2 separate regions of the Homo sapiens genome follow, and region 1 is linked to region 2. The links come from fine-mapping of genetic effects on gene expression. A gene starts in region 2. The other region holds a variant in brackets. All regions are shown on one strand. Distances are between the middles of the regions.

What was found.
Region 1: its variant is fine-mapped to the expression of NAXD in skeletal muscle (GTEx, PIP above 0.99). The same link has a PIP of 0.9 or more in spinal cord.

What each region holds. Positions count from the first base shown.
Region 1 is chr13:110,633,314-110,642,927 of GRCh38, forward strand. NAXD (NAD(P)HX dehydratase) reads left to right here. Exons shown (of 10, transcript NM_001242882.2): 6 at 1,232-1,282; 7 at 1,359-1,463; 8 at 2,155-2,275; 9 at 3,816-3,936; 10 at 5,065-6,683. The coding sequence ends at 5,215. CARS2 (cysteinyl-tRNA synthetase 2, mitochondrial) reads right to left here. Exons shown (of 15, transcript NM_024537.4): 14 at 9,002-9,208; 15 at 8,104-8,295. The coding sequence ends at 8,224. Among named protein-coding and RNA genes, the nearest start is that of NAXD-AS1, 22 kb to the left of the region's middle. RefSeq lists enhancers at 910-1,739, 1,740-2,568, 3,399-4,227. The variant T/C (reference allele first, on the strand shown) is at 5,384.
Region 2 is chr13:110,610,949-110,620,562 of GRCh38, forward strand. NAXD (NAD(P)HX dehydratase) reads left to right here and starts at 4,597. Exons shown (of 10, transcript NM_001242882.2): 1 at 4,597-4,699. The coding sequence starts at 4,654. NAXD-AS1 (NAXD antisense RNA 1) reads right to left here and starts at 5,405. Exons shown (of 1, transcript NR_182301.1): 1 at 2,134-5,405. RefSeq lists enhancers at 1-366, 3,678-4,605, 5,507-5,556, 5,577-5,626 and silencers at 4,807-5,056, 5,067-5,226.

The sequences.
Region 1 (9,614 bases), 22 kb after region 2:
GCTGCTCCGAGTGCGGGGCCCGCCAAGCCCACGCCCACCCGGAACTCCAGCTGGCCCGCAAGCGCTGCAGGCAGCCCCAGTTCCCGCTCGCGCCTCTCCCTCCACACCTCCCTGCAAGCTGAGGGAGTGGGCTCCAGCCTTGGCCAGCCCAGAAAGGGGCTCCCACAGTGCAGTGGTGGGCTGAAGGGCTCCTCAAATGCCGCCAAAGTGGGAGCCCAGGCAGAGGAGGTGCTGAGAGCAAGCGAGGGCTCTGAGGACTGCCAGCATGCTGTCACCTCTCATTTTGTTTAATGTTTTCTATTTTAATGTTTTGTATTATCAGGTGTCTGTCAAGTCAGGATCACTTTACATGCTACTGCAGTGTATAATCTTGTCACAATGTATTGGCTCATAATAATAAAAACCACCAAATATTACATATATGTGTGTGTATCTATACATGTAGTTTTTTTTTTTTAATAGAAAACCTTTGAAACCTTCACTGTAATCCTATCAGGGAAAAATGATTCCCTGTTTATTATTGTTGTTATTTTAAAACGTGTAAGTAAAGTGATATGAAAAATACATAATGACTAATGATTTGGGGAATTCTCAGGAATTCAGATTTCCTGCCTCCGAATGCTGCGTATTAGTATCTGTTGGAGAACTGGATGCCCTTGCTGGGGCGGGGGCTGTCTTCATGGGTTAGCCTAGGAGCCCAGCTGTTGTTCATAGCGTTTCCAGTGGGCTTCGCCTTTCAGAGTTCCCAGTGTCCTGCCTTGTTTACGGGCTCTGCGAGTTCATTGGGTCTTTCTGCTTCTCTATTTTATTCATTTACTTGATTATTTTCCATTTATTGTTTGATGGCCTGATGTTGCATTTTATTAAGAGTCTGCTCAATTTTCTGTCACTCTTGGGAAAAGTGTCTTAGTCGGTTTTGCGCTGCTGTAGCCGTACCACAGACTGGGTAATTGATAATGAACAGGCGTTTACTGGCTCACAGTTCTGAAGGTGGATGTCCAACATCAAGGTGCCGGCATCTGGCGAGGGCAGAAGGGCAGGAGAGAGACCCTTATGCCTCTTTTAAAGGTCATTAAACCAACCCATGAGGACACTGCCACATCACCTTTTAAAGGCCCCACCTCCCAGGACCCTTCCCTTGGCAATTAAGTTTCACCATGAGTTTTGAGAAGACACATACCCACACCATAGCAGCAGGCATGGTGCTCAGTCTGGTTTTCTCTTCTGGCAGGGCATTTTGGAAGTGTCAAAGGCCAGGGACATCCCTGTTGTCATCGACGCGGTGAGTTGACTTCTCTCCTCCTGGCTCGGACTCCCGGAAGGCCTGTGCAGTGAGCACGGCTCCTTGTTCTGTGCAGGATGGCCTGTGGCTGGTCGCTCAGCAGCCGGCCCTCATCCATGGCTACCGGAAGGCTGTGCTCACTCCCAACCACGTGGAGTTCAGCAGACTGTATGACGCTGTGGTGAGTCAGTGGACCCCCTGGAGGGTAGATGCAAGCCCTGTTCGTCCTGAAGAGGGTGAAGGACGAGCTCCATGCTTCTGCCCAGCCTGTCCCTGTGGACACACCTGCAAGTAATCGCTGTGCCTCTCCCAGCGGATGGCGCGTCTTCCCATTAATGCGCTTGGATTGGATGAACGATGGTGTAGTGGGCTTGGGACAGGCAGGGACTCGGGTCAGTCAGCCCCTCCTGCAGTGCACTCTGGACAGGTCACTTTGTCTGTGTCCTGAGTGCCTCATCTGTAATGTGATGATGGCATCAGCTTCACGGGGTTGTGAGGATGAGATGAGGAAACCTATGTAAAGCCGTGAGTCCCCACATGGTAAGTGTCCCATCAATGTTAGTGCCCAGTACGACTGGAATTTGTATTACTCCTGCAAAGCTCTCAGAACCCAGTCTTGGGTGGTCCTCCTTCAGCCTGCTCTGATGAGGTAGAGGATGGGCACTGGAGCAGGCACCGTGTCAGCACCTGCTCGGAGGACTCACTGCAGGTGATATCCTGGGCATCCTCCCACCTACATGGCCTTTAACAGGTGCCTGGGTGATCCCTTTAGACACGAGAGCATGAGTCTCATGGCGGATGGGACAGGGCTATCTGTCGTCGTGTGTCTGAGGAAGACTTTGCTTTTTCTCTGTCTTCCTGTGTTGTCATAGCTCAGAGGCCCTATGGACAGCGATGACAGCCATGGATCTGTGCTAAGACTCAGCCAAGCCCTGGGCAACGTGACGGTGGTCCAGAAAGGAGAGCGCGACATCCTCTCCAACGGCCAGCAGGGTGAGTGGCGGCTGCCCTCTGTGCATGGGCCAGTGCCAGGTCAGTCAGCATGGCCACACCGAGCATGAGCCCTGGAAGACCTCTCCCGTGCACACCCGTGTTCACACACATTCACACAGGGATTCCTGATGAGCTCGTCAACCACACTTTCTTCAGAGTCCATGTTTTGACTTTTCACTGTTTTGCCAGGGGAGGTGACAGTGGTGAGGGCAGGCTTTCGAGCCGTGGGCCTTACCCGTTGGTTGAATTCCCTTGCCTCAGTTATGAGAAGCAGTCTGGCGGGAGGGTGCCTGCAACAGCAGGGCACAGTGCAGGGTCCCGCGTCTCCAGCTGCCACCTTCATCTCACCTGTGGCATCCACCATCCATGCAGTTATTTGGGTATTTTATTGCATTTCATTCTCTTTTATCAAAATGACTGGAAAGTGCAGAAAGCCCCGAAGCTGATGCTGGTAGTGGAATCTCAGGCACTGAGTGTGGCGAGTCTCAACTGGCCACTCCCACGGAGCCTGGGGAGGCTTCAGCAAGAGCCAAGTGAGAGCAGGGCAGAGGCCGGGCCCAGCGCCAGCGAGGCATCTGGGGAGCCGTGCCCTTGTTAGCGCTGAAAATGGAAGCCCCTCCATTCAGGCCTGGACAGATGATGGGCAGCGAATGTGCTCACCTGCTGAGCTGTGGGGCTGGACTAGGTACCAAAATCAGGGTAGAACACTGAGGCGTCTGTGGGCGGGTGTGTGCACATCCACACTTGTACACTCACATTCACATGCACATATGTGCACACGCATGCAATTCATACACATGCACAGTTGTGCTCACAGCCTCGCACGCCCTTGCACACTCGCACTTATACACATGCATGGTCATGCTCACAGCCTCGCACACGCCCTCGCACACTCATCCACACACAGCTGTGCACAAGGAACACAGAGCAGATGTTCTCAGAGGGACTCTGACACCTTTGAGATGAGGGTTTTTTAATCACTGGAAGGCTCTCTTGGGTCTAACAGGTTCAGAGAATGTAACACCTGGTTTTCAAAACATTTTTCAAAGAAATAGAGAATTCCCATACACAGGCATACGTGACGTTATGAGGCCGGTGGAGGCCTCGCTCGGTGTTGCCCTGTATGGTTGAGCTGTGGTTTAAGGTGAACTCTGGAGTGTGGGCTGCAGGTGAGGGCTCCGTCCCTGGGAGCTGGTGGGAGGAGCTGGAGGCTGGCGCCGCCCTGCTCAGAGCTGCCTGCTTGGGCTCGTCTGAGGCGGTTCCGAGCTGCAGGTGTCTCCACCAACCTGCTGTGCTACACAGCGGGGTCTGGGGCAGCCTCACCACTGCGTGTCTTGGTTTCCTCTTCTGTAAAACAGAGGCTGCCTCCAACCCTTGGAACAAACAGGGAAGAGCCGTAGCAGGCAGGATGTGAGTGGAGCCTCAGGCTGCTCCTGGAGGGTGTGGCTCTGCCTGCCGTGCGGCCTTCCACACCCGTGGCTACTGTCACATTCACACACATGGCCATGCTGACACCTGCTCTCACTTCTGCCCTGTGCAGTGCTTGTGTGCAGCCAGGAAGGCAGCAGCCGCAGGTGTGGAGGGCAAGGGGACCTCCTGTCGGGCTCCCTGGGCGTCCTGGTACACTGGGCGCTCCTTGCTGGACCACAGAAAACAAATGGGTAAGGCCACGTCTTCATTTATTCTACTTTGAAACCGTCTGATTTTTCTAAGCTGTTTCAGTAGCTCATGCGTTGAATAAGTAGCCCTGGAAACACTGACAATGAACTCTAGGCTTCACTGGAGAGATCTCGGCACAGACGAACCCTCTTGGCAGAAGCTTCCACCCCACACTTGGGCCTGGGCCTGTCCATCATTCACTGTGGATGGGGCCTGGGGCAGGGGTGGTCTTCAGAGCTCTCCAGAGAGTTCCGAGGTGCAACCAAGGCCCAGCAGCACGCTGTTCTGGGAAGTTGAGTGGTTTATTCTGTGTAACACAGAATACTAAGATAGAAAACAGACAGGGTCAAGGCTTACTTAGACACTTGTTCTTAAAGATGTGAATTTTCTTTAAGAGACAGCAGAATTCTAGGACCAGGGCCCTTGGCCCAGTTCTGTAGTCAGAGAACTTTATGAATGCAAGCAGTTCCCATACCTCTAAGCATCTCCATTTCTCTTCTGTGAGCCCATCAAGGTGGTGGCTGCAGGTGCTAGGTGTGGCAGACCCGGGCTTCTGGAGGGTGGGCAGGGCTGTCATCCAGTGGCCTCATGTGTCCTCATTGCCGGGATGGCAGAGTCTGGGACCATCCCCCAAACTAGGTGTGTCCACATGAATTTGAGAGCCGAGGAGGTAGGGGTGTGGGCAGGAGTCTTACTGTTCATTCTGCTGTGTTCACTCGAGTTGCCTCCACCCCTCCCCCAGGAGATGGAGCCCTGGTAGCAGGAATCCCCATTCTCAGACCTCAGATGCCCTCTGCACCTGGGCACTGAGAGCACAGTCAAACAGGGCTAAGCAGCTTGTGCCGCCTGGCTTTCCCCGGGAACACCTGGCCCACTGTGTGCCCTAGCCCTGGACCTGTCTCCGAGTACATAGACGTTTCCTGTGTGCCTCCTGCCAGGGAGTAGTGGAGGGTTAATGGTGGTTTTCGCTGTGATAAACCTGCTTTCTCCTCAGGGGCATATCAGACTTGAAATTGACAATTTGGGGTCCTGAGATTGAAACAGGAGTCAAAACCAGAGCCCAGGGTAGCTGCGGCCCCCGGACCACGACGCCCACTTCCCCACACCTCCTGCTGTCCCCCTCTCCGCAGGTCCAGCCCTCTCCTGGTGGCCGCGTTTGGCGCCTGCTCTCTCACCAGGCAGTGCAACCACCAAGCCTTCCAGAAGCACGGTCGCTCCACCACCACCTCCGACATGATCGCCGAGGTGGGGGCCGCCTTCAGCAAGCTCTTTGAAACCTGAGCCCGCGCAGACCAGAAGTAAACAGGCACCTTGGACGGGGGAGAGCGTGTGTGTGATGGGAAAATCCGGACCCACGCGTGTGCTGAAGGCGTACGGTGCTTGCCAGATTTTCAACTTGAGCATAAATTGGTTGCCATTGAGAATTTAAGAATCTGGAATATTGCAGCT[T/C]TTGGTTAAACTTAATGCATGGTTGGAGATGTTATGGCGACACTAAACAAAGTATTCCTGAACTTTCCTTAGCTCCTTGGTAGTAACTGGGAAGACAGAAATGAAGAAAATCACATGAGAATGAAGAATTCTTTAGCAGCTCAACAGAGTTTCTCGGCCTGCTCCCAGATCGGCGAAGTTTCTACTTGTTACTCTCTCTGCCGGCGCCCTTCGTTCCTCCTCTGCTTCCCTTCCCTAGTCTTTCCTCCGGCAGGGAGCTGGGCAGGGGTCCCCGGGTGTCTCCCTGAGTCCCGACTGCACTGACTGGGTCCATCAGAGGGCTGCTTCGTTCTCCAGCTCATCTTCTTTTAAAGTGGTGACTAGCTTGGTGGTATCTGGCTGCTGGTGTTTGGCTTATTGACATACTCCAGGGTAATCAATGATGACTTTGTTTGGAAACCCTTTTGGAGGCACCATGGGAACAGAAGGAAACATGAGTGACGCTGACCCTTGAGTGTGTGGGTGGGGAGCTCTGAGACGCCTCCTGTCCCACGCTCTCCGGTGTCCGTGTCTACACAGGGGTCCCCATGATACCCACCGGCCCCAGCAGGGCAGACCGGACCGGGGACGGGCACGGTGAAGGGCTGCAGCCTGGGGTCTGACGTGGCCCCTAGTGCTGTCTCAGGAGAAGGCTCTGGAGGACTTGAGGCATGCTGGGCCTGGTGCAGTGATGGCGCTAAGGAGACCCGGGGAAAGACAGTATCGTGGTCACGTATGCTTAGGAAGCAGCACAGCCGTGTCCTTAGGGATGTTCGCGTCCAGTAAAGACACTGGTAACTGCGGTTTCAGCCAACACTCTTCATGGCAGTGTCGACCTCGGGTTAGCTTCTGTTGTCTTTGTGGATGGTTTTCCTGGAGCGGCCTGACGTTGACGTGTTCTCTGGTCCCATGTCTTAGCGGGGCATGGTACGGTTTCGTGCCTGACGCGTGCATTAGGGTGTTCTCTTATACTTTCAGTAGCATCTTTCCACAGCAAGGGCCAAACCCTCCTGGTTCCCTTCAGAGTCTTTTTGGCCTGATGATGACTCTTGAGTGATACCCTGTGATGCAGACATGCCCCAGATGGATTCTACTTTCTTTAAAACTAGGGACTTTCAAGATTAAAAAAAAGATTGTCACTACTAATTTGACGCCTAACTTCAGAAGCTTCACTGTCTACATGTGAACTTTTCCAGAAAAACTGTGCCATGGACATTTTTCCTCTGGGGAATTAACATCTAAATTCTGGTAACTATTAAAAGACAGATCTGGTTAATTTAAATTGAGTATTGTATTTTTTTCCTTAAACAGCTAAAGCTCACCTTTCAACTTTCTTAGGTGAGGACATTGTGTGAGATGCCAGGGAGATAAGAATATCTAAGCCTGTCTGTGTGAGATTGGCCTCCTCGCCAGCGCCTCTCCCGTGGTGGCTGCAATAAAGCACCTTGAAGGATAAGCCCAAGGCAGCCCCTTCTTTCCTTAGGAAATAGAATTCAGCAGTCACAGGAACTATTCGTCTGGTTTTTGTTCTAAGTAAAACATCCCTTTGCTTAAAGGAGAGAATGGGTTTTTTTACAAGCAGCTCATTGCTTCCATGTTCTTTCTCAAACCCACGTATTTCACGCACTCGCTCCAGCCGGACACGCTCCCAGGAGCTTCCCTGGACCAGGAGAGCAACGGGAAAGTGTGGGGGGGTGGGCGGCCCGTAATGCCCCAGTACTGAGCAGCCCTGTCGAGATGCCTCATTGTAAGGAGCCCTCTGGGGACTTTTTCTATGTGGGTAGCTTTACTAGGGTGATTTTCTAGGTGAGTGACTTCTGAACTGTAGACAGGAGACCTGTACCTCAGGGTCACGGTTAAATGATGAGCAAGCCCGTATCCCCAGTCACGGGTCCCGCTGCTGCCTGTGCCCTTGGGATTCAGAGATGCCAGTGTGACAGGGAGAGGCCTGGCCCAGGGTCTGCGAGCAGGAAGAGTGGAGAGGGGTCACCCTGCTGAGTCACTGACAGCTGTGGCGCTGGGCTTACCACAGAAGGGTGAGATCAGGAGCAAGGTGGGTGCTTCAGGAGGCCACCGGTCCTGTAGCCCAGGCAGCCTGCCGTGTGCTGGCCGCCACCTCCCGCTCAGGAATCCTGTCTGTCACAGCTCGCCAGCTGGCTTTCAGCCTGGCTGCCCTGACTCCTCCGGAACCAACCTTTCCCAGGCCCAGCTCGACCCCATCACTGCTCTGCACAGACCATGACCACCAAGATGGCCTGCAGCTGCCAGGATGTTAACTGCAGCGGGACTGCAGACGGGTTCTCAGCTGCATTTTTCCTATGCTGAATACGTTACTTTTGTAACCAGAGAGAAAACGTAAGATTGTGTTCTTGCTGGGGGAGGTGTCCCGGGGTTAGCATTGCTGGCGTCCCACCTCTGCTTCAGACTATGCTGCGTGGCCCACCCACCTCACCCATCCCCAGCCCCTCCCTCAGGAGGAAACAGGCTGCATTCTGCCGCCTCCCGGGGTCCCTGCTCTTCTGTTGGCTGTGTTGTCTGTTCCCTGGGCACAGGGCCAGCAGGTCTCACGCACAGGCACGTGTGCTGCTGGATGCTACTGAATGTCTGACACTACTTCACTCAATCGACGGTGAGTCTGTAGCCACAGAACGCAGTGAGTGTTTAGGCTCAGTTACTAACAAACAGACGCCAGTGGGACACTGTTGGTTGCCTTACTTTAATGCTGACCTAGCAGCCCCGACAGGAAGCTTTAACATAAAGCCTTGACCCTGAGAAGCATGGGTGCGTCTTGTCGTGAGCAGGTTCATGGCTGTGCTCCATCCTCAGCCCGCTGATTTTTGGTCTTTTGTCCTTTGATCCAGCAGTTCCCACGTGGATGTTGTACTGCTTCTGTCCTGGAGAAGAAGAGTGAGGTCCAACTCTGAGCAGACACCACGTCATGTGGCACAGGGGGCTGACAGGCGTAATCAGGTTCAGGGTGCCTGTTCCCTCACCGGCCTGTCCTAAAAAGCTTGCCAGGCGCTTAGAAAGGGCCCCACTACCTCCAGCAGAAGGCCAGGAGCTTCAAGGCACCTGCAGGAGGTGGCGGGGGCTGAGCAGGACCCACGTCCCCGTGCTCAGCGTCCCCTGCAGCCAACTTGGCCCCTCCCTCACGGCCCTCCCACCTCATTTTTTATGGGGGTGGGTTTCTCTACTCAGAAGCATGGGCAGGGCGCAGTGGCTCACGCCTGTAATCCTGGCACTTTGGGAGGCTGAGGTGGGAGGATCACCTGAGGTCGGGAGTTTGAGACCAGCCTGACCCACGTGGAGAAAACCTGTCTCTACTAAAAATAAAAAATCAGCCGAGCATGGGAGTGCATGCCTGTAATCCTAGCTACTCAGGAGGCTGAGGCAGGAGAATCGCTTGAACCTGGGAGGCAGAGGCAGAGGTTGTGGTGAGCCGAGATCACGCCATTGCACTCCAGCCTGGGTGACAAGAGTGAAACTCCGTCTCAAAAAAAAAGCATGGTCACGGGGGATGTCTGGGCCTCTGATGGCCCCACGTCCTGTTGACCTACCCGGCTCCTGGGGTGATGTCCCTGACCTTGGTGCGGCACTCACCTTGATGTTGATGCCGTGGGCAGTCAGGCCCCGGCGCAGGGTGTCGCATGCTTCCAGCAGGGGCTGCCTTTCTAGGAGCTGCTGCCGCCGGGCGTCCCCCGTGGCCTCGGGCATGGCCAGCGCAAACTGCCGGACCTTCTGCCGGAACCGCACCAGCTCGTCCACCACACCATGCAAGGTAGCCTCGCTGCCGTCTCCTGAAACGTACTGAAGCCAGCAGGGCGCGGTTACGTCCCCCGGAGACTGTGGATTGTGGATGCCCCCTCCCCACCCCGTGGTTGGGCTCTGGGCCGACACCCACCCAGCCCTGGGCTTCCCTGATTCCCTGCAGCTGGGCCTCTTTCTGGGTCTGGCAGGGATGGGTACAGCCCGCGAGCGCTGGGCTCTGGGCAAGGCTCCACTCAACTCTGAGCATCTGTCGTCCAAGCAAGGCTGAGTGATCCTCACTCGGGAGTTGGAAGAAAGGGCTGGGGGCTGCATGCCGCCCCGCCCTGAACACAAACGCTCCCTGGCTTCCAGACCTCACGCAATTGTGGCCGAGGTATCAGGAGCAACCTGAGGATGAGGCTGGGGGGCAGCGACTGAGCGCTTGCACACGTGTGTTTCGGCAAAT
Region 2 (9,614 bases):
GAGTGAGACCCTGTCTCAAAAAAAGAAAGAAAGAAAATAAATAAAAGAAGAAGGGATGGAAATCTCCAAGGGGGAAAATGAAATGGGAATAGCACTGGGTGGTCACAGGAGGATGGAAAAACCCAAACAACAGCTAGAATAAGAACGAGGCAAAGAAACCGCAGGTTAACAGAAAACCCAAAATAAGGAAGAGAAAATGGTCAAATCCTGGTCAGGGTGATATGTCCATGATCCTGGGAAAACTTGAATAAGGGTAAAAGTCTGTGGTAATGGGGGGAGGGAGTCCCTGAAATCACTCCTTTTCCAGAATACCTTATGATTATTCCACCCCCTAATTAAAAAAAAATCCATAAAATTAGAAACTCAAACTCTGATGTGACTCACTCTGCTGAGCACGCCCGCAATTCTCTTTTACGTGTGTGCTTTCGCTTTGCAGTAAAAGCTTCTTGCCTTTCGTTTCATTCTGACGTGTCCCTGAATTCTTTCTCATGCTGGTGTCAAGAACTTGGAAACTGGCTGGGGCTGGGGTCTCAGTGGCATCCAGAGACCCTCCGGAGACCTCCGACAGCTGTAGGTGATTGGGGGCGCCAATCACATAGGGGTCGGAGAGTGATGGAATGCACCTTAATTTTAATCTGAGTGTCATGGAAAACAGTTGGATGGTTCTATGCAGAGGAGTGACATGATCTGACTTATAGGAAAGATCATTCTATTGCTGTAGGAAAGCAGGGAGGTTAATTTATTAACAGAAGGTATTATGGGTTGAGTTGTGTCTCCTCAGAATATGTTAAATCCTAACCCCTAGTACCTGTGACTATAACCGTAACTGGAAGTGAGGTCTTTATAGATTATTGAATTAAGATGAGATGAGATCATTAGGGTGGGCCCTACTCCAATATGACTGGTGTCCTTAAAGGAGAGGAAAATCCCACGTGAGGACAAGGAGACCATCATGTGATGACAGAGGCAGAGGCTGGGGAGGGTGCCAAGGGCATTTTACAGTAAACCTGAAACACTCGTTCAGGCCGAGATGGAAAGGGGGGATGGATGCCTCATTATACCCTCCTCCCTTTGGAATTCAGGCACAGTTGACCAGCATTAACGTTAAAACAGAGACCTTAAGACTGACAAAGCAGAATTTTTGTAGCAATAAGATACCAATGTGACAGATTGCAAGCCCTGAAAGAAACTGGAGTATTTTACCCCAAATATATTCATTTGGCATATTTTGAAATAGCCTTGCAAAACTGTCTCTTTGGGGAAAAACATCTACATTCTGAGGAGACTCCCCTTCCTTTTCCAGGTCTTTTTCTTGATCCAGGAGATAATTTACTAAGAGTCCGGCACCTGAAGTTTGATAAGAAACATTTACAAAGTCCAGGTGAGGTGGGCCACACCTGTAATGCCAGCACTTTGGGAGTCTAAGGCAGAGGATCACTTGAGGTCAGGAGTTGGAGACCAGCCTGGCCAACACAGTGAAACCCTGTCTTTACTAAAAATACAAAAATTGGCCGGGTGTGGTGGTGCACGCCTGTAGTTCCAGCTACTTGGGAGGCTGAGTAGGGTGGATCGCTTGAACCTGGGGGGCAGAGGTTGCAGTGGGCCAAGATTGTGCCATTGGACTCCAGCCTGGGCAACAGAGTGAGACTCTGTCTCAAACAACAACAACAACAAAAAGAAACATCTACAATTCATTCTCTTTGAAGCCTGCTACCTGGAGGCCTCATCTGCACAACCCCTTATCTTAACCCAGACACTTCCTTCTACTGATTCCAAGTCTTTAAGTAAACTTTCTACCAATTGCCAATCAGAAAATCTTTGAATCCACCTATGACTGGAAGCTCCTCTCTTGGAGTTGTCCCACCTTTCTGGGCTGAACCAACGTACTTCTTACATGTACTGATTGATGTCTTCCGTATCCCTACCATGTATAAAACCAAGCTTAGCCCGACTACCCTGGGCACATGTTCTCAGGATCTGCAGGGGCTATGTTACAAGCCATGGTCACTCATCTTTGGATCAGAATAAATCTCGAATATTTTAGAGTTTGACTCTTTTCATTGACACTCATGCAGCAGACTATTGCCATCATCCAGGCCACACACTGTTAAATGGAAAAACCTTAGACACGTGTATGTTTTAACTGAGTGTATTTGAGCAAAACAAAACAGATTCCCGAATGGGGCAGCCCTCCAAACCAGAGCAGATAAGAGAACTCCAATCAGGAACCTGATCTGACAGCACCTATAGGAAACAGAAGTGTGTGATGGAGACAGCTAATTTGATTATAACTTCATTGCTTAACTGGTTACAGAGTTTCCTGCCATGAAGTAAAGCTCAGTTACTGTAGTTAAACTCCTTACTGGTTTGGTCTGGTAGGTGTAGTTCAGGGTTTCACTCTGTTATCAGAAAGGGGTTCCAATCCAGACCTCAAGAGGGTTCTTGGACCTTGTGCAAGAAAGAATTCTGGGCGAGTCCATAAATTGAAAGCAAACTTATTAAGAAAGGGAATAAAAGAATGGCTACTCCATAGGCAGAGCAGTGGCACTGGCTGCTTGACTGAATATACTTATGAGACTTGAAGCCAGCTGGACTTCCTGGGTCGAGTGGGGACTTGGAGAACTTTTCTGTCTTACAAGAGGATTGTAAAATGCACCAATCAGCACTCTGTAGCTAGGATTGTAAAATGCACCAATGAGCGCTCTGTAGCTAGCAAGAGGATTGTAAAATGCACCAATCAGTGCTCTGTAAAACGCACCAATCAGCAGGATCCTAAAAGTAGCCAATTGCAGGAAAGATTGAAAAAAGGGCATTCCGATAGGGCAGAAACAGAACATGGGAGGGGAGAAATAAGGGAATAAAAGCTGCCCCACCCCCCCACCCCCGCCAGCCAGCAGCAGCAATCCACTTGGGTCCCCTTCCATGCTGTGGAAGCTTTGTTCTTTTGCTCTTCATAATGAATCTTTTTTTTTTTTTTTTTGAGGTGGAGTCTCGCTCTGTGGCCCAGGCTGGAGTGCAGTGGCCCGATCTCGGCTCACTGGAAGCTCTGCCTCCCAGGTTCACGCCATTCTCCTGCCTCAGCCTCCTGGGTAGCTGGGATTACAGGCGCCCGCCACCATGTCCGGCTAATTTTTTGTATTTTTAGTAGAGACAGGGTTTCACCGTGTTAGCCAAGATGGTCTCGATCTCCTGACCTTGTGATCCACCCGCCTCGGCCTCCCAAAGTGCTGGGCTTACAGGCATGAGCCACCACGCCCGGCCTCTTCATAATAAATCTTGCTGCTGCTCACTCTTTGGGTCTATGCCACCTTTAAGAGCTGTAACACTGTGAAGGTCCGCAGCTTCATTCTTGAAGTCAGTGAGACCATGAACCCACCGGCAGGAACTAACTCCACACATAGTTATAGTTATCTCTTGATTATAGGCTAAATAAGGAGGGGATTATTCATGAGTTTTCTGGGAAAGAGGTTGGCAATTGCTGGAACTGAGGGTTCCTCCCCTTTTTAGACCATATAGAGTAATTTCCTGATGTTGCCATAGCATTTGTAAACTCTCATGGCGCTGGTAGGAGTGTCCTTTAGCATGCTAATACGTTATAATCAGCAAATAATGAGCAATGAGGACACAGAGGTCACTTTTGTGGCCATCTTGGTTTTGGTAGGCTTTGGGCCAGTTTCTTTACTGTGTCATCTTATCAGTGCGGTCTTTGTGACCTGTATCTTGTGCCCACCACCTCATCCTGTGGCCAAGAATGTCTAACCCCCTGGGAATGCAGCCCAGTAGGTCTCACCCTCATTTTACCCAGTCCCTATTCAAGATGGAATCGCTCTGGTTAAAAGGCCTCTGACATGTTGAGCCATCCTTTCACCTCAGCCTCTCAAGTAGCTGGACTACAGGTGTGCCACACCATCCCCTGCTAATTTTCCAAAAAAATTTTGGTAGAGAAGGGGGTCTCCTTATGTTGTCCAGGCTGGTCTCAAACTCCTGGGCTCAAACGATCCTTCCATCTTGGCCTCCCAAAGCATTGGGATCACACGCGCGAGCCACCGCACCTGGCCCCACAAGTTTCTTTTAGCACCATGACGGTGGCTTCAAATAGGGCGGCAGTGGAGGTAAGAGGCCATCAGCCACAGGAGGAGCGTGGGTGGGAGGGCAGGAGAGGTCAGAATGCCTTCCAGGGGTTTGGGCCTCAGCGTTGGAGTGATGGAGCTGCCCTGACCTGAGACGGTGGAAAGCGAAGGGGCCTCGCAGCGAGCTGGTTTGGGGTTCAGGGCAGAGGTTGCGCCTGGAGCAGAAAGGCACCTGACTGCTATACTGGGGGCACATAGTGGGCCTCGGCACTCCACCTGCCAGCAAAATCATTTTCTATAACGCCGCAAGCCTAAAAATGGGCCGATAAACACAAACCAGACCCTGAACCAGATCGTTGTTAACTCTTCAACCTGCCTTCCAGCCGAACCTCTTAGGCCAGAGCTGGGACCAGGCCGGGTTGGGCGTCGCGCTTGTCAATCATCTAGAACCGGGTGTGATTGAGCGAGTTGGGATCCCACTGCCGACAGCCGCGCGGAGGCGGTCGGGAAACCGGAAAACGCTTCCAATGGCTGTGTTTCCGGCGACGGCGCGGGGGCAGCTGGGAATCCGGAATGCTGCCCGATGGCCCTGGGTCCTCGCTGTGGGGCAATCCGGGCTTGCAGACGAGGTAAGGTCGATTCCATTTGGCCCGGGGATGGTCACACGCGCGGGGGCCGGAACTGCCGTCGCCGGCGCGGTCGTTGTCGCATTGCTCTCGGCCGCACTCGCGCTGTACGGGCCGCCACTGGACGCAGGTACCCGACCGCTGACCGCCTCTGCTGGCTCGCGGGGGGGAAGCGCCGCCGAGGGGCAGCCCGCGCGCGGGGCCGGGGCGCCGTGTGGCCTGCGGGGCGGAGTAGGGAGAGGACGGAGGCCTCCTGGAACGGCGCGGCGACGGCTGGGCGCGGCTTGGGTGATGGGAGCCTCCGTGCGGGGTGACAGAGGGGCAGAGGGTGGCGCCGGGCCGGAGCCAGTGCGCGTCCCAGGAGCGGCGGAGCCCGCGCGGTGGCCGGGGAACGGGGGGCCGAGGGCCGAGGACGGTAGGAGGGCCCTGGGGCGCCGTGGTGCGCTGGTCGGATCCGTCTGCTCTGCTCTGTCCCCGCTCCCGGTCTGGGAAAGATGCTCGCCAACTGCGGGCTTGCTGTTTGGTCGGAGCTGGATACGGGGGCCCTCCTGGGGCCCAGGGACGCGGCGGGCGTGCAGGCGAGCTGGCCGGCTGAGCGGGCTTCGCGCACACCAGGAGCAGGGCCGTGTCTGCATCCCCAATTTGAAGTCCCAGTGCGACTGGGCAAGTACAGACCCTGCACGTCCTTGGACGAGAGGGACTGGATATTGCGACGCCTGGGCCGCAGAAAAGGACTCCACCAGCCAGGCCTCCTTCGCCCGCCCCCGGTTCGGGGTGTGTGTGTGCGTGTAGGAGGTCCCTTGGGGAGGGAGGCTCACCTGAGTCATCCCCAGAACCTGAAGTGCTGGCCAGATGTCCCCGAGGGCCCTGCCCTGGCCTTGGCTGGTCCTTGCACGCTGAGATGCCTTTTCAAATAGAACGGATAAGGTAGAAAGAATTTAAACAGGAGCTGAGCAAGTGCTTGGAGCCCCATCTCTTCATAGGGTTTTTTTGTCTTTCTGTTTGCCTTGTTGGTATTGGTGTATCTAACATATTTTATACAGGAAGTAGTTCGTGTATATCTCATTTCTCATAAGGAGAGATTGCTGTTATCCACCTTGGTATAGAAGATAAATAGAAGCTCAGAGAAAGTGACTTAGCCAGGATTCTCCAGCCAGTGAGTGGCCGAAATGGTTAAACGCACCATTTGTTGCTGTAGTCATTAGATAGATTTTACCTTGTGTGTATGTTGGGCATCGTCAGAGAGTTTGGCTTTTTGTTTTCATCAGCACACACTGAGAATGCACTGGGTGGCGCTGAGAGGGTACTCTACACTGCACCTCACTCACACCAGCAGGGAGGCTTCTTAACACTTTATTTAGAGATTTATTTGTAGCTCTTTACCTTAAATTCACACACCGTGATTAGTAGCAAGATTTTTCATTGCGCTTGGTTGAGGATTTATTATCAGACTGCCTAAACTTTTACGAAAAGCCAGGTAGAGTTGTATATTACTGAGGCTTTAGGAAATATTTCAGTTAACTTAGGGATTGTGGTTAAATGCTCTAAATTAGTTATAACTCACATTAACTTAAAGTATTTTTGTTTTTTTAAGTAGAATTTTCCAGTACTAAAAGCACTTTTAGCACAAAGCAGCAGTGATAGTCTTCCCCAGACACGCTTCCTTAAAACAAAAGCCAAACAAATTTAACCTGTTCTTCCAGACTCAGAATTGTCTGAAGAGTTACCGAATGGGATACATCTTAAGTCGCCTATTGTCAAGGCCTTTTTATCCTTCAGAACTTTGATCTTTATATGTAAATGTTTCTGTGTTAACATTTGAAATGTTAAGTTCAAATGGTGACGTCAGTAAGCCAGCTGGAACTTGCTTCACTGCCAAGTGCTGGGAAGTTTAGTTGACCTGCTTTGGCCCTTTTGCTAACAGAAGCTGTTTATCTTAGGTGAATGCTGGTGAGCAGCCTGGATTTTACTTTGTGTTAATACAATTCTATTCAAGTGAAAATGCTATACTTCTTATTTTGCCTTAAAATGGCAGCATTTTACACCTACTGTGTGCCCACAAAAATAAAAACAAAAACATGGCAGCACTTTGGTAAAATAGTGTCTTGTGGCCTGGCTTGTCCATTACTAACCACAGCATCTGCACAGGTTTCTCTCTGGGCCCCAGTTTCCTTATCTGTAAAAGAAAGATAAAGTGCTAGTGAGGAGAGTGAATCACGATGTCTTGACTTCATCGAACATGTATCAAGTGTCTTGTTCTGTGCCAGGCTGTGTTCGAGGTGATTGAGTCCCACATGGAAGCAGTCAGTGCTGCAGCTTGCGGATGGTGCCACATTCCTCGTGGGCAGGCAGTAGTAGGGTGCTGATTCTCTGCCAGTCCAGACATAAGAACTTCCTTCTTATGTCCAGGTCAGCCCCTACCATGTAGGTTGTCTGTGTGCTCGAAAGGTTTCAGAACCCCACATGTAATAATAGTTACTTTTGGTATCACTTTGAATTTTTAAAATTATGTAGCAAAAAAGTTACTATTAATTATATTATGAGTTTAACATAATTTTAAGCTAGCTTCCATTTGAGAGCCGTTGTTCTCATGTGTAAATCTTGAAATATTCAGTTTCTGGATGGCGCTTCTTGTTCTCCAGGGTTCTTAGACCCAGCCCTTACGGTAGCATCATGGCCAGGGAACTGGGAATCTCACAAAGTCTTAAGATTTCACAACGGAACAGGAGCAGGAGGAGGCGACTCCCGCTGGTGGGTTGATCAAGTTGCTGTGAAGGTGGTTTGCACATTTTGGGCTTCAAAACACTACCTTCTGTATAAGATAAAGGAATAGCTCAGAACAGGATTCCCCCCGTGTTTTCTTCCTAGCTATGATAAAGATTGCCGTGTGAATGCAGTGGGTTTTACACACTCAGAATTGATATTTTTGGCTTGTGGTAAATGGGACTTTAATGCTTAACCTGCTGTAGAAAAATCCGCCTTAGAAAGTGGCCCTTATTCGTATATTGTATTCGATGTTTGAGCCCCCTGATATCTTATCATTTTAACAAAGCTTACCTTGAAGTGCAGGAAAAATTGTATGTGTTCTTGTCATTATTTGAATAACAACAAAAATCAGTATTAGCTTTAAAGCCTGTAGGTTTTAAGCGTATCCTTGCCTGGACTAGCATATCTCCTCTTTCTCAACCAAAAAGATCAGAAAGGTGCTATCCCAGTACCAAAAGTACTGGGAGGACTTTCAGCAGAGTGTGACGCAGAAGGGAAGCTTTTCCGCTCTGGGGAGCAGATGCGGAGAGGACAAGCACTTGGAACACAGCATCCCTGGGAGCTCTGGTGCTGCAGTTGTGACCCCGAGGCGGCCCTGCTGTGCCCTCCTGGGAGTGCTGGGCGACACTGGTTGCAGAGGGGCATTGGTGCTCCCCTCCACCTGACAGGTGCTCCACCTGGACTCGTGGCTGCAGCTTAATTTTGTGTCAGATCCTTTCCGGTAATGTATAGGTTATTTCAACTATGAGGCAAAGTGCAAATGGGTAGTTCAGTGTGGGTTTATGGTATTTGCCCTTTTTGATATAAACATTAAATATTTCATACCTCACCTATAGTACTTTTTTTAAGACTTAAATCTGAAATTTAAGATACAGATGTTTGTAAGATATGAATCTTGGATATTGGGAGAAAGAAGCCTCCTGGAAAATATACAGTATTATCTGGTGGAACCATTTTATTCCTTTTCTTATTGTGAGAAATACACATTTATGAAGTATTACCATTTAGGAGTTGTTTTCATCAGGCAGGGTACATTGATATAAATGTTGATTTTTAACATCCGTAAGTTGAAGTCTGACTAAATTGTTTTTCTCTGTGATTTCATAAGTCACAATTTATATTTTATATGACCTTAAATATTTAATTTGAAGTACTGGTATATTTAAAGGTGCTAAAACTACACGCATGCATCTCTACTAGTGGTTCTTAACCCAGGCTCATTTTGCCCCATCCAGAAGACATTTGGGAGTGTTGAGATATTGCTGGTTGTCACCACTGGGTGCGTGTACATGCACTGCTGACTGGGTAGAAGCCGGGGATGCTGCTCAGCATCCTTCAGTGCATAGAACAGCTCCCCACGACAAAGACAGGATGCTGATCGATACCCATAAATGTCTTTTTTTTTGAGACAAGAGTCTCGCTGTGTCACCCAGGCTGGAGTGCAGTGGCATAATCTTGGCTCACTGCAGCCTCCACCTTCTGGGTTCAAACAGTTCTTCTGCCTCAGCCTCCCGAGTAGCTGGAATTACAGGCATGCACCACCGTGCCCAACTAATTTTTGTATTTTTAGTAGAGATGGGGTTTCACTATGTTGGCCAGGCTGGTCTCGAACTCCTGACCTCAAGTGATCCACCCACCTTGGCCTCCCAAAGTGCTGAGATTACAGCGGGGAGCCACTGCGCCTGGCCCCATAAATGTCTCTTCTAGACAAGTGTATTGTTTTAAAACCATAATTTAGCCCTCCTGGAGGGATTTCAAGGATGGGTGCATTGGTCCCCTGCAGGTAGCTCAGCAAGCTTCATTGTGTCTCTCCTTGGCCCACAGTTTATAGTGATTCTGTGCCGGGTCTTGTGTGTTGGTCTGGAAGAAGGTGAAAAGATTTGGGGTTGGGCTGAGCGCGGTGGCTCACACCTGTAATCCTAGCACTTTGGGAGGCCGAGGTGGGCAGATCACAAGGTCAGGAGATCGAGACCACCCTGGCCAACATGGTGAAACCCCGTCTCTGCTAAAAATACAAAAATTAGCTGGGCGTGGTGGCATGCGCCTGTAGTCCCAGCTACTCAGGAGGCTGACGCAGGAGAATTGCTTGGACCAGGGGGTCGTAGGTTGCAGTGAGCCGAGATTGTACCACTGCACTCCAGCCTGGCGACAG